Linked DNA regions of Homo sapiens. The protein of the gene in region 1 interacts with the protein of each later gene in a pairwise test. Each region holds a gene or a part of one and is shown in the gene's direction. Other genes may lie near its edges.

Region 1 (6,891 bases):
AACATTTTACAGTCATATCCCAGGCCACAAAGGCAGGTTTCGTGCAAACAAAACTGACCTTCCTCCCCCCTACTCTCCGCACTGTTAATTCTTTCCCACCCGCTGGGACCAACACCTTTTCCTCTGCTCCTGCTCCTTCTTCCACACACTTTGACTCACTGCTCTTTTATTCCTAAACACTCTGGAAAACCTGCAAACACTTGTGATCTCTTGATGTCAGCCCGATCAGGTGCTCTTTTCCTCTCATTTTATATGCCATCTGAGAGCTGCTAGATGGGTCATGGGTTTAAAGGAGTATTTAAAGCAATAGTAACTTAATAGCCAGAGCTCAGCTGACATCCTCCCCCAGGGCTGTGGGGCTGGCTGGGCCTCTACCTTTTGAACAGCAATTGTAGGAAAGATTGAAGGAACATGCTCCAGCCAACACGTGGGAATGTTACTTCACTTCAAGACCTAAAAATAGGCAGGTCTGGCGGGGCGTGGTGGCTCACGCCTGTAATCCCAGCACTTTGGGAGGCCAGGACGAGTGGATCACGAGGTCAGGAGTTTGAGACCAGCCTGACCAACATGGTGAAACCCCGTGTCTACTAAAAATACAAAAATTAGCTGGGCGTGGTGGCGCACGCCTGTAATCCCAGTTACTCAGGAGGCTGAGGCAGGAGAATCACTTGAACCCGGGAAGCAGAGGTTGCGGTGAGCTGAGATTACACCACTGCACTCTAGCCTGGGCAACAGAGTGAGACTCTGTCTCAAAAAGAAAAAAAAAAAAAGGCAGGTTTGTGTTTACCTAGTTCCTCTGTATCCAGACAGCTCATTCGTGCAATTTTGCTGGTAAGTTCGCCATTTTTCCATCAGCAAAATTTAGGGTGGGGACCGATCCACACATCTTCTGTCCTCCCCTAAATAAAGAAAAGGCCCAGAGCATTCTTTGGCATTTTGTCATCTGATAAAACTGTCACATCCAAATTTCATGTCCCCATCACCCCATATAATTCAATTTTGTGCCAATTTGCAGCCGTTCTCCTTGATAGCATCATCCCTTCTCTTTATGTAAAGGTCATTCAATCTAATGCCATCTTAGCAATTATACCAAGTGTGTCTTTGCACTGGATTTGAACAAATCATGAACTCCATTTTATTTTTCTGCTTCACAGAATCCAACAAGATAGAACCATCTCTTCATAGCCTCCAGAAATTTGTTCCTACAGATTACGCCAGCTACACTCAGGAGCATTATCGGTTTGCAGGAAAGGAGATTGTCATCCAGGAATCCATAGAGAGTTACGGAGCGGTGGTGTGGCCAGGGGTGAGAGAACTGTCATATTTGTGATGTCAGGATTTCTGGAGATAACAATTCCGTACTTCAGAGTTGCCTTGGACAATTTGTCAAGTTCCTTCATATCCTGCTTCTCAATTTGAGGTTCAGTTGCTTGCCCCCTGGAGGGTGTTGGTGGAGTGCTTGGGATCAGCAAAAACAGTGTTTCTTTCAGAAACACTGGTTTTGCTTCAAGCTCTGTTTCTCGAAACATTATTTTTATATTAAATAAACTCAGCTATATGAGGAAGTGAATGCAAAACTTGTATAAATTGTTAAGAATAAACCCAGGGATTTAGAGTTTAGATTTTGCAGTGGGCATCTCCGAGCCACGCCCATCGACCCTCAGCCATTCATCTCTCTCTTTTTTTTTTTTTTCTTTTGAGATGGAGTCTCACTCTGTTACCCAGGCTGGAGTGCAGTGACACGATCTTGGCTCACTGCAACCTCCACCTCCTGGGTTCATGCAATTCTCCTGCCTCAGCCTCCCGAGTAGCTGGGACTACAGGTGCGCGCCACCATGCCTGGCTAATTTTTGTATTTTTAGTAGAGATAGGGTTTCACCATATTGGCCAGGCTGGTCTTGAACTCCTGACCTCAAGTGATCTGCCCACCTCGGCCTCCCAAAGTGCTGGGATTACAAGCGTGAACCACCACGCCCGGCCGGCCAGCCATTCATCTCTTTTCCATGGGGGCTGTGTCGGTAGGGATGTTTAGGAAGCATGACTTTGTGGCATGTCACCCCTGCCACAGCCCTGAGAGGATGGCGCTGAAATGGGGGCAGTCCTCTGGATTTTTAGTCAGAAAAGCTGCCATTTCAGGGCTGGGTAGTCACAAATGTTCACCTCACCTCCGTTTGCCTTCATTTCCATATTTAAAACCTAGGGTGGTCGTAATGTCTACAGTGCTCCTGACGTGGTTGTCAGAATTGTGAGAATTAATTTCAGATTGTGAGATTAAATGAAGTCCTAGCGTAAGCTCACATGAACTGTCCTCATTAATGTAATATTCTTTCCACCTTTCAGCTGAGGAAATGGGAACGCAGGCCAGTCTGCTGGCGTGGTAAAGCTCCCGACTGGGGTGCAGGGCAGAGCCAAGATAGACAGTGGCCCTCAGAGCCAGTGTGGTTGCTTTTCCCACTGCGGATGTTGTCAGTGATTAGAAAGGCTCCAGATCAGAAGTTCTCAATCTGCAGTCTTGTTAAAATGCGGATTCTGATTCAGGAGGTCTTACACATTCCGGGGTGATGCCTATCTGCTGGGCCAGGGTGCCCACATTGAGTATTCCTGGTTAGTGGTTCCACGGGGCTCCCTCAGGTCATCTGGCGATGGCACAGGATGGGGAGAAGGGTAGCCAAAGGGCTTCAGGCTCTTAGGTGTCGACCTTCACTCACTCCCAAACAGGGAGCTCTATTTTTACACCTTATGCATATAATTTCCTTCAACTAAAGGCTTTTCTTTGCCTTAAAAACGAGTTTGAAAATCACCAAACTACTCACAGCTTCCTATTGTAACACATTCAGCAAATAGACGACAGCAGTGGTGTAGCGAGAAAGTGGTATAGTAAGAGATCAGAGGCCGGGCATGTGGCTTATGCCTGTAATCCCAGCACTTTCAGAAGCCGAGGCAAGAGGATCGCTTGAGCTCAGGAGTTTGAGACCAGCCTGGGCAACATAGTGAGACCCCATCTCCCTTTTAAAAATAATAATTTTAAAAAAAAGATCAGAAATTGAAAAAAGAATATTTGTCCCCCTGTTTTATTCTGAACAAGGTATCACTCATGCACCAAACACTAGCCTCTCATGAAACCTGCTTCCTGAAAGCTGCACAAGAAGGGCATCTAGAGTGGGAAGGCGCCCTTTTCCTGTGCGACTTCAGGTGCAACTCTGTGAAAAGATCTCTTCAGAGTTTGCTAACAGGACAAGGGGCTGGCGGGGGAATGTTTGCAATGTCAAAAGACACAGCTGTCCCTGAGAAAAGCTTTGTCTCCGCATGACACCCTGCGGCCAGCCCCTCACAGGGCAGGGCACCAGGAAGGACCCCTGCAGCCATCTCCAGGAAGTTCCTCAGAGCTGCCCTCTGAATGGCTCTAGGTGACACTCTTTTCCTGACATTGACCCCCTCCTCCCAGCCCCCACAGCAAATACTTCTCTTCTCTCCTTAAGGACCAAAGAACTCCTTTCTTCAAAACTTCCCTTCTAAGCTCTGGAGCTCCCTGCAGCGTGCTGCAGTTGGTGCTATTTATGTCACACCATGTTGCTATTTTACCCACCGCCCTGGCCTTCCACACCAGCTGGCTTCTCCCCGGCCCCATGAAGTCGGCCCAGACTCCTCGGCGGCTCTGTGGTGACCCCTCTCCCTTCAACCAGCTGTCTGCCTCCTCTACAGCACTTACCTCCCCAGAATTCAGTTTGTAATTGGCTGACATGGCCCCTAAGCCCCACCACTGAGTTCCCAGACAGTAGAGGTGACTGCGTCATATTCATCTTTGCCCGTGGCAGTTCAATATGAACAGATGAGGATGAAATGGAGTGACGTACAGGGTCAGGTTGGCTACCAAACCTACCACTGGTAATCCTAAGAGTGACACGTCTCCAATCATCCTGGCTGCCCCCACTCCAAACTGGGCCCCAAATAGAAAGTAGAGTCCAGAGGAAGATGGGGGCATATCTTTAGCTAGGGCCTAAATGTATAAGTAAATTATAGAGTTCATTGTTTTTTAAATCTCAGTGTTCACGTTCCTCACGCTGGGCTATTTATACTCAAATTTAAGTAACTTTTTGTCATTTCTTCTCATAACTCTTCCTAATCTCTCCAATCAAGGGCACTGCTAGTTGATGCCTCATTGCCATACACGTAAACACCTCAGCAATCAATGCAAATCAAATACCCTTTACTCTTTGTGGAAAGGTTAGAGGAAGGTGGAGGGAGAAGAGAACGAATAAAGAAGAAAGGGAAGTTTGATTTCCTGTATAAAAAACTAACAATATTTGTTGATATATAAAACATTTAAAAAAATCTGCTTGCTACTACTCAAAGTGGGTACATGGGCCAGCAGATGAGCATCATGTCAGGGCTTGTTTAGACGTGCAGGATCTTGAGCCCCACTCTCGACCTACTGAATGAGGATCTGCATCTTTAACAAGCTATCCAGGGAATCTGTTTGCACACTGAAGTCTGAGAAGCAGTTTCTGAACTGTCTGTTTCTTAGAAGAACCACTTTAAAAAAAGTCACTAACCCGTCGCTCAATACGGCAAAGTGCTCGCCAACCTGAATTTTGGTAAAGGAGTCAGGAAAGAGGTGTTCAAGTTTATAAATTGACATTTTAAAAAATTACTTCTATAATTTAAAAAACTCTCTTACAAGAAAGAATTCTAACATAAAACAACATTCCTAAAGCAGTTGGAGACCAACATGATTAAACCAGTGGAAGGAGTTGCTGTTCTTTTAGCCCAACATTGCCCTGATTTGAAAGAGCTAAGCTGATCTACTGTTCTTCCTATTCTTTGGAGATTTAGGAGGCAATTTAACAAATCTTTTTCCCCAGTTCCTGAGATGCAATTTATTATAACTTCTTTATTTCAGAGGTCTAAATATGGCATTGAGTGTACATTTGGGTTCTTATGAATATAAACTGAACATATGTAATAACATGTCTTTTAGTATTTAAATTTGGGTGCCAGAAAGGGTTGCTACTGGTTTCCAATGTTCCAATGCCCACATGAAAAGTTATAATTATTTTTTAGGCTATGGCTTTGTGTCAATACTTGGAGGAACATGCCGAGGAATTGAATTTCCAAGATGCAAAAATACTTGAAATTGGTGCCGGACCAGGCCTTGTTTCCATTGTGGCCAGTATTTTAGGTTTGTTTGTTTATTCCTGACCTAGTATCCAGATCTTTACTGTAACAACAATAGCAAGTGCTTACTCTATGACAGGCTGTGGTTTAGGTGCCTGGCCCTAACTTCACTCAGTGACTCTCCCCAAAATGTCATGCGGCAGGAATTACTGCTGTTATCTACAGAGATCATTGAGTCTCAGAGAGGTTAATAAACTCCAATCAACCAGTTTCCATGGGACGAAGTTGAGTCCAGAGGCATGACTCTGAATCTCTGTTGTCAATCCCACAGGTGAGGTGAGGTGGGGGAGCTACTGACATCAGGTGGTTGGAGGCCAGGGAGGCTGCTCACCATCTTACAGTGCACGGGACGGACCACCCACAAGAATTAGCCAGCCCACATTAGGTCAAACATGTCCAGCCCACCCACCAATAGAGCCAAGGCTAAGGAATCCAGTTGTTTCTTGTGTTTCTCCCTGGGTATATGTACACTGTGACTGCCCAGATGTTTCCAGGTCATTGTTTTCTTTTTCTCTTAGGAGCTCAAGTCACAGCAACAGATTTGCCTGATGTCCTGGGAAACCTTCAATACAATCTTTTAAAAAACACACTACAATGTACAGCACATCTGCCTGAAGTGAAAGAACTGGTATGGGGGGAAGACCTGGACAAAAACTTTCCCAAGTCAGCTTTTTACTATGATTACGTCCTAGCCTCAGATGTGGTCTACCATCACTACTTCCTGGACAAGCTGCTCACCACCATGGTGTACCTTTCCCAGCCAGGGACGGTGCTGCTTTGGGCAAACAAATTCAGGTTCAGCACCGACTATGAATTTTTAGATAAATTCAAGCAAGTTTTTGACACAACACTGTTGGCTGAATATCCAGAGTCATCAGTCAAACTTTTTAAGGGGATACTAAAATGGGACTAAATCCAACAAAATGCCTTTCACAACGTTACTGTGTCTTTTGAGCAATGTGTTAGAAATTGCTTTGGTAATAGACTTCTTTCACAGGATTGAGAAGGTAGTGCATAGAAACAACTTGTATACTTGGAACAAATGTAACAATACTGCAGAAACTTTCTAATTTCTAAGATAATTTAAGATTATCTGGTTAATCTAAATATCTAAAAAGAACAACATAAAAACATGAAAGTAGCTTTGTTGGTTCCAACGAAGTTACATGTTTAATAAATCTTACATGGATAAAGTAATAAGTGAATTTCTTCCCTATTTCTGCTATAGAGCATATGTTTAAACTTGGCAATATAGTCTTGTCACATGCTTTTTGAAACTGGGCTTGACAGAGTCACTATATCTTAGTTTGAAGAATCTACTTTTGCAGATTTTTAACTGCAGCAAAAAGAGGATATTGAATGATAGAAAACAGTTAATAGGCTTAAAGTTGATTAAAAGTGAAAAATAAAACTGCCGGAATGAGAACAATGTTGTCTTAAGAACTTCTTAAGATAATTTACAAAGAGTCTCCCTCTGTGTCAATTATCTTAATAATTTCTAGTTAATTTCTGTATTGTCTGCTTTTTTCACAGTAAGTATTTTAGGCTCTCTAGTCACATACTATGCTATATATATATATATATTTGTTTGTTTGCTTTTACAACCATTTATGAAAAGGTAAGAACCTTCTTAGCCTGCCCAAACAGGCCTCAAGTTAGATTTGGTTCACAGCTCATAGTTTACCAACCCCTGGAACTGCAGGCGATCCACAGTGA
Region 2 (7,029 bases), on another chromosome or scaffold:
GGCCGCCCCGTCTGAGAAGTGAGGAAACCCTCTGCCTGGCAACCGCCCCGTCTGAGAAGTGAGGAGCCCCTCCGTCCGGCAGCCACCCCGTCTGGGAAGTGAGGAGCGTCTCCGCCCGGCAGCCACCCCGTCCGGGAGGGAGGTGGGGGGGGTCAGCCCCCCGCCCGGCCAGCCGCCCCATCCGGGAGGTGAGGGGCTCCTCTGCCCGGCCGCCCCTACTGGGAAGTGAGGAGCCCCTCTGCCTGGCCAGTCGCCCCGTCCAGGAGGGAGGTGGGGGGGTCAGCCCCCCGCCCGGCCAGCCGCCCAGTCCGGGAGGTGAGGGGCGCCTCTGCCCGGCCGCCCCTACTGGGAAGTGAGGAGCCCCTCTGCCCGGCCAGCCGCCCCGTCCGGGAGGGGGGAGGGGGGGTCAGCCCCCTGCCCGGCCAGCCGCCCCGTCCGGGAGGGAGGTGGTGGGGGTCAGCCCCCCGCCCGGCCAGCCGCCCCGTCCGGGAGGTGAGGGGTGCCTCTGCCCGGCCGCCCCTACTGGGAAGTGAGGAGCCCCTCTGCCCGGCCAGCCGCCCCGTCCGGGAGGGAGGTGGGGGGGTCAGCCCCCCGCCCGGCCGGCCGCCCCGTCCGGGAGGTGAGGGGCGCCTCTGCCCCGCCGCCCCTACTGGGAAGTGAGGACCCCTCTGCCCAGCCAGCCGCCCCGTCCGGGAGGGAGGTGGGGGGGTCAGCCCCCCGCCCGGCCAGCCGCCCAGTCCGGGAGGGAGGTGGGGGGATCAGCCCCCCGCCCGGCCAGCCGCCCAGTCCGGGAGGGAGGTGGGGGGATCAGCCCCCCGCCTGGCCAGCCGCCCCGTCCGGGAGGTGAGGGGCGCCTCTGCCCGGCCGCCCCTACTGGGAAGTGAGGAGCCCCTCTGCCCGGCCAGCCGCCCCGTCCGGGAGGGAGGTGGGGGGGTCAGCCCCCCGCCCGGCCAGCCGCCCCGTCCGGGAGGGAAGTGGGGGGGGTCAGCCCCCCGCCCGACCAGCCGCCCCGTCCGGGAGGGAGGTGGGGGGATCAGCCCCCCGCCTGGCCAGCCGCCCCGTCCGGGAGGTGAGGGGCGCCTCTGCCCGGCCGCCCCTACTGGGAAGTGAGGAGCCCCTCTGCCCTGCTTGAAGGCAGCATGCTCGTTAAGAGTCATCACCACTCCCTAATCTTAAGTACCCAGGGACACAAACACTGCGGAAGGCCGCAGGGTCCTCTGCCTAGGAAAACCAGAGACCTTTGTTCACTTGTTTATCTGCTGACCTTCCCTCCACTATTGTCCTATGACCCTGCCAAATCCCCCTCTGCGAGAAACACCCAAGAATGATCAATAAAAAATAAAAATAAAAAAAAAAAAATAAAAAAATAAAAAAAAAAAAAAAGAAAGCCGCCTGACCTGTATACAGTATTCTGAAAAGGGGGTCGCGAGGTGCATGTCCAACCTCCGCCGCCGGGGGCAGCAGCGAGTCCAGGCCGAGCCGGGGCCTAGCGAGCGGGGTCAAATGGGGTGAGGCCTGTGCCAGACCTCTCCACCTCGGTGGCAGCCGCAGCCTCCTCCGCCTGCGGCTCCTGTCCACGCCGCGGCCACGTGAGCGCCAGATTCTGGCGCACAGACCACTGCCAGTCCTTTGCTGCTTTGCGCAGCCTGTCCTCCCCGCCAGGAGCACCCTTCCCGCTCCCTTTTACCACGGGCTCCAGCCGTGGCTGCCTTGGGGCTGCCGCCGCCTGGCTGTACTCCAGGACGTTGGGAAAGAACGGGTGGGAATGGTGTGGGTGGGGGTCAAAGAGGAAACCCAGAGATGCAGGGCGCCCCTTTCCCGTGGTCTGCCCCCAATTGCTCAGGCAGGCCAGTCACGGTGAGGCGTCCTCCCTCCAAGTTTATATTTATTATTATTTATTATTTATTTTTTTCACCTTCAAGTTTATTATTTATTATTTATTTATTTATTTTTGAGACGGAGCCTCTCTCTGTCGCCCAGGCTGGAGTGCATTGGCACGATCTTGGCTCACTGCAACCTCCGCCTCCCGGGTTCAAGCGATTCTTCTGCCTCAGCCTCCCGAGTAGCAGGGATTACAGGTGCATGCCACCACATCCGGCTAATTTTTGTATTTTTAGTAAAGACAGAGTTTCACCATATTGGCCAGGCTGGTCTCGAACTCCTGACCTCAGGTCATCTGCCCGCCTTGGCCTCCCAAAGTGCTGGGATTACAAGCATGAGCCACTGCACCTGGCTAACCTCCAAGTTTAAAGACAGCCGCCAGGCCCAGTGGCTCACTCCTGTAACCCCAACAACTCAGGAGGCTGAGGCCAGGAATTTGAGACCAGCCTGGGCAACATAGCGAGACCCCGGCTCTAAGAAAAATAGGCCAGGCACGGTGGGTTACGTCTGTAATCCCAGCACTTTGGGAGGCTGTGGCAAAAGGATTGCCTGAGGGGGAAAAAATCACCCTGGGGGTAGTGGTGCACACTTACAGTCTCGGCTACTTGAGAGGCTGAGGTGGGAGGATCATTTAAGTCGGAGGCTGCAGTGAGCTACTATGGAGCGACTGTATTACAGCTTGAGCAACAGAGCGAGACCCCATCTCCAAATAAATAAATAAAGATAGCCTCCAAAGATGTCACTTGCTTCACTTAGCACTTTTTATTGAACATATTTAGGAAATATATAACCATGGTAAAGAAAATTGCAATTAGTACAAATACACACTACACACATATGCACGTGCACACACTGAAACGTGTCCCTTCCAGCGCCTCCTGCCTGGATAATTTTTTTTTTTTTTGCAACGGAGTTTTGCTCTTGTTGCCCAGGATGGAGAGCAGTGGCGGGATATCGGCTCACTGCAACCTCCTCCTCCCGGGTTCGAGCGATTCTCCTGCCTCAGCCTCGCGAGTAGCTGGGATTACAGGCGCCAGCCACAACACCCGGCTGATTTTTGTATTTTTAGTAGAGACGGGGTTTTGCCAAGTTGGCCAGGCTGGTCTGGAACTCCTGAGATCCGCCCACCTCGTCCTCTCAAAGTGCTGGGATTACAGGCCTGAGCCACTGCGCCTGGCCTAAAGTAATTGTCTTCTTATTGGTTTCTCTGCCTTTGGTCTCACCAAACGCCCCACTCTAAATCACTGCAGACAAGGGGTTCTGTCTAAGGAGGAGAGCCCACCAGTTAAAACCCTTCAGTAGTTCCTAACTACCCTAGGACAAATGCAGACTTATCCTTCGCTCTCTGCTGCCGCCCCTCTCCTTCCCAGATCCCATATGGCTCCAGCCATATCCTCAGACCATCTGGGCTGTTGTCTGTCCTGCCACACACCCTTCCCACCCCGCTCCCTTGCAAGTCCTACTCAGGCTGCACCTACACAGCTGTCTCAGTTTCTATCTGAGGCTCCCGCAGCCTCCTCTGAAAGTCCTCATCACAGCCAATGATACTGAAACTGTTTTCTTATGCAGGGCACGGAAAGATCTATTCAACTCACTGCCCAATCTCCTCTCCTGGTGCAGAAAAGACACCCAGTCAGCGACTTGCATTATCTGCAGGCATGAGTGAATAATAATAATGCCTAACCCTTATATAGTGCTAATTCCACGCCTGGCACTGTTCTAGGCACTCATATAAATTCATGTAATCCACACAACCCCAAAACTGATGATATCTCTTCATCTTACCAAGCACTGAGCAGTTAAATAACTTGCTCCAGATATTAAGGGGTCGAGCTGGGGTTTGAAGCCTGGTTACCCATAAATGAACCAAGAACTGGAAGGAGGACAAGAGCTCCGAGAAGGAGTCAGGTAGGGCGTGATCTGTGCGCTTTACATCTAAGATCTTCCAGCTCCCAGGGAGCCCGTTTCATAGAGCAGGAGATAGAGGCTGGGAGGGACACGGAGAGCCTCGAGAGCCGTGTGGAGGAAGCGGTGCTGTTTGGGGTCCGGGAGCAAGGGCGTGGCCTGGATGCGCGGGCGCCCGGGACGGCACGTCCTCAGACCAAACTACAACTCCCAGGACCCAGCGGGCGCTGCCGCCCACGCGACGTCACGGCGGCGGAGGGCGCAGGCGGCTGGGCGCCTGGCGAGTGGACTGTTCGAGCCCTTCCGCTGGGACCCGGGCCCTGGCTCCGGCCCCGCGGTAAGTGGGGCGACCCCAGCCTACTCAGTCCGCGGAGGCCCCGCGGCGCACGTCCGCAGCCTCCATCACAGCGCGGGCGCGCAGACGGGGCTGGCATCTACCATATGGGGGGCATCCGGGCCGAACCAAGTGACCCGCGTGGGGGGTCCCGCTGGGGACTCCGTGCCGCACCCTCCCAAGCCGGCCCCAGGGGCCCAGGGCTGGTGTCGCACGTTCGCTGGCCGCGCTCCCAGGGCCCGGGTTTGAAGGCGCTGGGCAGGCAGGGGCAGCCCCGCCCCCTGAGAAGGGTACCCGGGACCCCGGGGCGCTGGGGCGAGGTTTTCGGGCTGGAAGGGTCTGAGGGGCTCCTCCCCCGACAGCCCTCCCACCGCCAGTAGAGCCTCGGGTTGGGGAATAGAAGCCCCCGGGAGGCTAGGTCCTTTGGGCGCGGCCTGTGTGCATCTGGGGAGACGGTGGGAGTGGTGGGGAGAGGTCGCCCGGGTCTGGGGAGACCGATGCACAGGTGGAGAGATGGTGCGGGTTCTGTGGATTCGGATCCTTACAACTTCCTCTTCCCCGCCCCGGTAGATGGGAGCTGCTCTCCGCGGGCTGAGCCTGTCAGCATCCTCGACGCACCCTGGTCCCTGAAGTCGGAGAAGAGCCCCTACCCACCCACACCCCCTTGCCCCATTTTGGGTCGCCTGGGTCCTCAGTCCTAGCGGATCCTCAGTCCTAGCGGCCACCGGGTCTGAAAGGAGCAAGACGATGATCCTGGCGTCGGTGCTGAGGAGCGGTCCCGGGGGCGGGCTTCCGCTCCGGCCCCTCCTGGGACCCGCACTCGCGCTCCGGGCCCGCTCGACGTCGGCCACCGACACACACCACGTGGAGATGGCTCGGGAGCGCTCCAAGACCGTCACCTCCTTTTACAACCAGTCGGCCATCGACGCGGCAGCGGAGAAGGTGCGCAAGGGGGCAGCCAGCCCAGGGTCCGGGATGTAGGCGGGAGGGAGAGTGTTGGGGGTTCTCTGCTCAAGGCCTCTCTCCCTCTCTAGCCCTCAGTCCGCCTAACGCCCACCATGATGCTCTACGCTGGCCGCTCTCAGGACGGCAGCCACCTTCTGGTAAGATTCACGCCCTCTATTTTCCTCGTGGATCCTGGAGCTCTCCCAGACACTCAGGCTCCAGCCCCGCCTTCCCTTCTCATTTTCTCCCAGAAAAGTGCTCGGTACCTGCAGCAAGAACTTCCAGTGAGGATTGCTCACCGCATCAAGGGCTTCCGCTGCCTTCCTTTCATCATTGGCTGCAACCCCACCATACTGCACGTGGTAAGGTAGAGAGGACCTTAGGTCAGCGGGCCACCCTGCCCCGGGGGCAAGTGGGGAGTCTGGGGCCCAGAGTGGCAGACGATTGCTTGCCTAAAGGTGTCAGGGCCACACAGGATTCAACCCCAGGCCTTCAGAAGCCAAAGGTGTGTATTCACGGAGCCTGGAAGGGTCGAAGTGGGGGTTTGATCACGTGGTCGACCAGCTGGGTGGTGATCCCCATGGGTAGGTGGGGGTGGCTGTTCTCTGCTCAGTGCCCATGCGGCTTTGTGAATTCCCACACCTCTTCCTTGCAGCATGAGCTATATATCCGTGCCTTCCAGAAGCTGACAGACTTCCCTCCGGTGAGTGCTGGGCCAGAGCAGGGTGAGGGGCTGAGAGGTTGGGCTTGGACCACCCTTCCTCATGACTCTGTGACCTGCAGATCAAGGACCAGGCGGACGAGGCCCAGTACTGCCAGCTGGTGCGACAGCTGCTGGATGACCACAAGGATGTGGTGACCCTCTTGGCAGAGGGCCTACGTGAGAGCCGGAAGCACATAGAGGTTGGGGCAGCAAAGGAGAGGCCGGGCCTGCTGGGGGTGGGAAGGGCACGGGATTCTGAGACCTCACTCTTTACAGGATGAAAAGCTCGTCCGCTACTTCTTGGACAAGACGCTGACTTCGAGGCTTGGAATCCGCATGTTGGCCACGCATCACCTGGCGCTGCATGAGGACAAGGTGGGGCTCTGGGACCTGAGACCCACCTGGGAACATTAAGTGAGACAGAGGAGACTGGGCTGGGGATCCGGGTCAAGGGCCTGGGGGCTGAGGCTGTGGGGCTGGTGCTTTGGGGCAGTTCCGAAGTTGCCAGCATCTTGGGGTGGGGCTAGGGGCGTGGGTAGTCCTGACCTCCTTTCTCCGGCCAGCCTGACTTTGTCGGCATCATCTGTACTCGTCTCTCACCAAAGAAGATTATTGAGAAGTGGGTGGACTTTGCCAGGTGAGGCAAGAATGGCTCAGGGGGTGGGCAGACATCTGGGGCAGGGAAGGCTTGGGTCTGAGCCCTTGCCCGGGGCATGATCTGCGGGGAGCAGGGTTTCTCAACCATGGCACTATTGACATTTCCAGCCAGATAATTCTTTGTCACAGGGGCTGCCCCGTGCACGTTAGGAAGTTCAGCAGCATCCCTGGCGCCAGCAGTACTGCCTAGTTGTGACAAACAAAAATGTCTCTGCACATTGCCATATGTTACTTAGGGGGGCAGAATTGTTTCCAGTTGCAAACCACTGGTGGAGGGGCCCCTGACTGAACCCTCGCTCCTATCCGCAGACGCCTGTGTGAGCACAAGTATGGCAATGCGCCCCGTGTCCGCATCAATGGCCATGTGGCTGCCCGGTTCCCCTTCATCCCTATGCCACTGGACTACATCCTGCCGGAGCTGCTCAAGAATGCCATGAGGTGGGGTGGCTTGATGTGCTGGCTTGGGGGCGGACAGGAACCGGGGTGCTTGTACCTACTGGTCTTTCCCCTCTGCATAGAGCCACAATGGAGAGTCACCTAGACACTCCCTACAATGTCCCAGATGTGGTCATCACCATCGCCAACAATGATGTCGATCTGATCA

Evidence for each region.
Region 2: the proteins of METTL21C (region 1) and BCKDK interact in binary tests that used the Homo sapiens proteins (3 or more experiments, as listed by UniProt).

The regions. Positions count from the first base shown.
Region 1 is NC_000013.11:102,685,228-102,692,118, reverse strand, and holds the end of METTL21C (protein-lysine methyltransferase METTL21C), read left to right. Parts: intron 1-1,154; coding exon 1,155-1,306; intron 1,307-5,061; coding exon 5,062-5,179; intron 5,180-5,693; coding exon 5,694-6,088; 3' UTR 6,089-6,372; downstream 6,373-6,891. UniProt on the Homo sapiens protein: Protein-lysine N-methyltransferase using S-adenosyl-L-methionine as methyl donor. Mono-di and trimethylates 'Lys-943' of AARS1.
Region 2 is NC_000016.10:31,104,357-31,111,385, forward strand, and holds the start of BCKDK (branched-chain alpha-ketoacid dehydrogenase kinase isoform a precursor), read left to right. Parts: upstream 1-4,029; 5' UTR 4,030-4,123; intron 4,124-4,690; 5' UTR 4,691-4,867; coding exon 4,868-5,062; intron 5,063-5,154; coding exon 5,155-5,223; intron 5,224-5,316; coding exon 5,317-5,427; intron 5,428-5,720; coding exon 5,721-5,768; intron 5,769-5,848; coding exon 5,849-5,968; intron 5,969-6,044; coding exon 6,045-6,143; intron 6,144-6,331; coding exon 6,332-6,405; intron 6,406-6,734; coding exon 6,735-6,863; intron 6,864-6,943; coding exon 6,944-7,029. UniProt on the Homo sapiens protein: Serine/threonine-protein kinase component of macronutrients metabolism.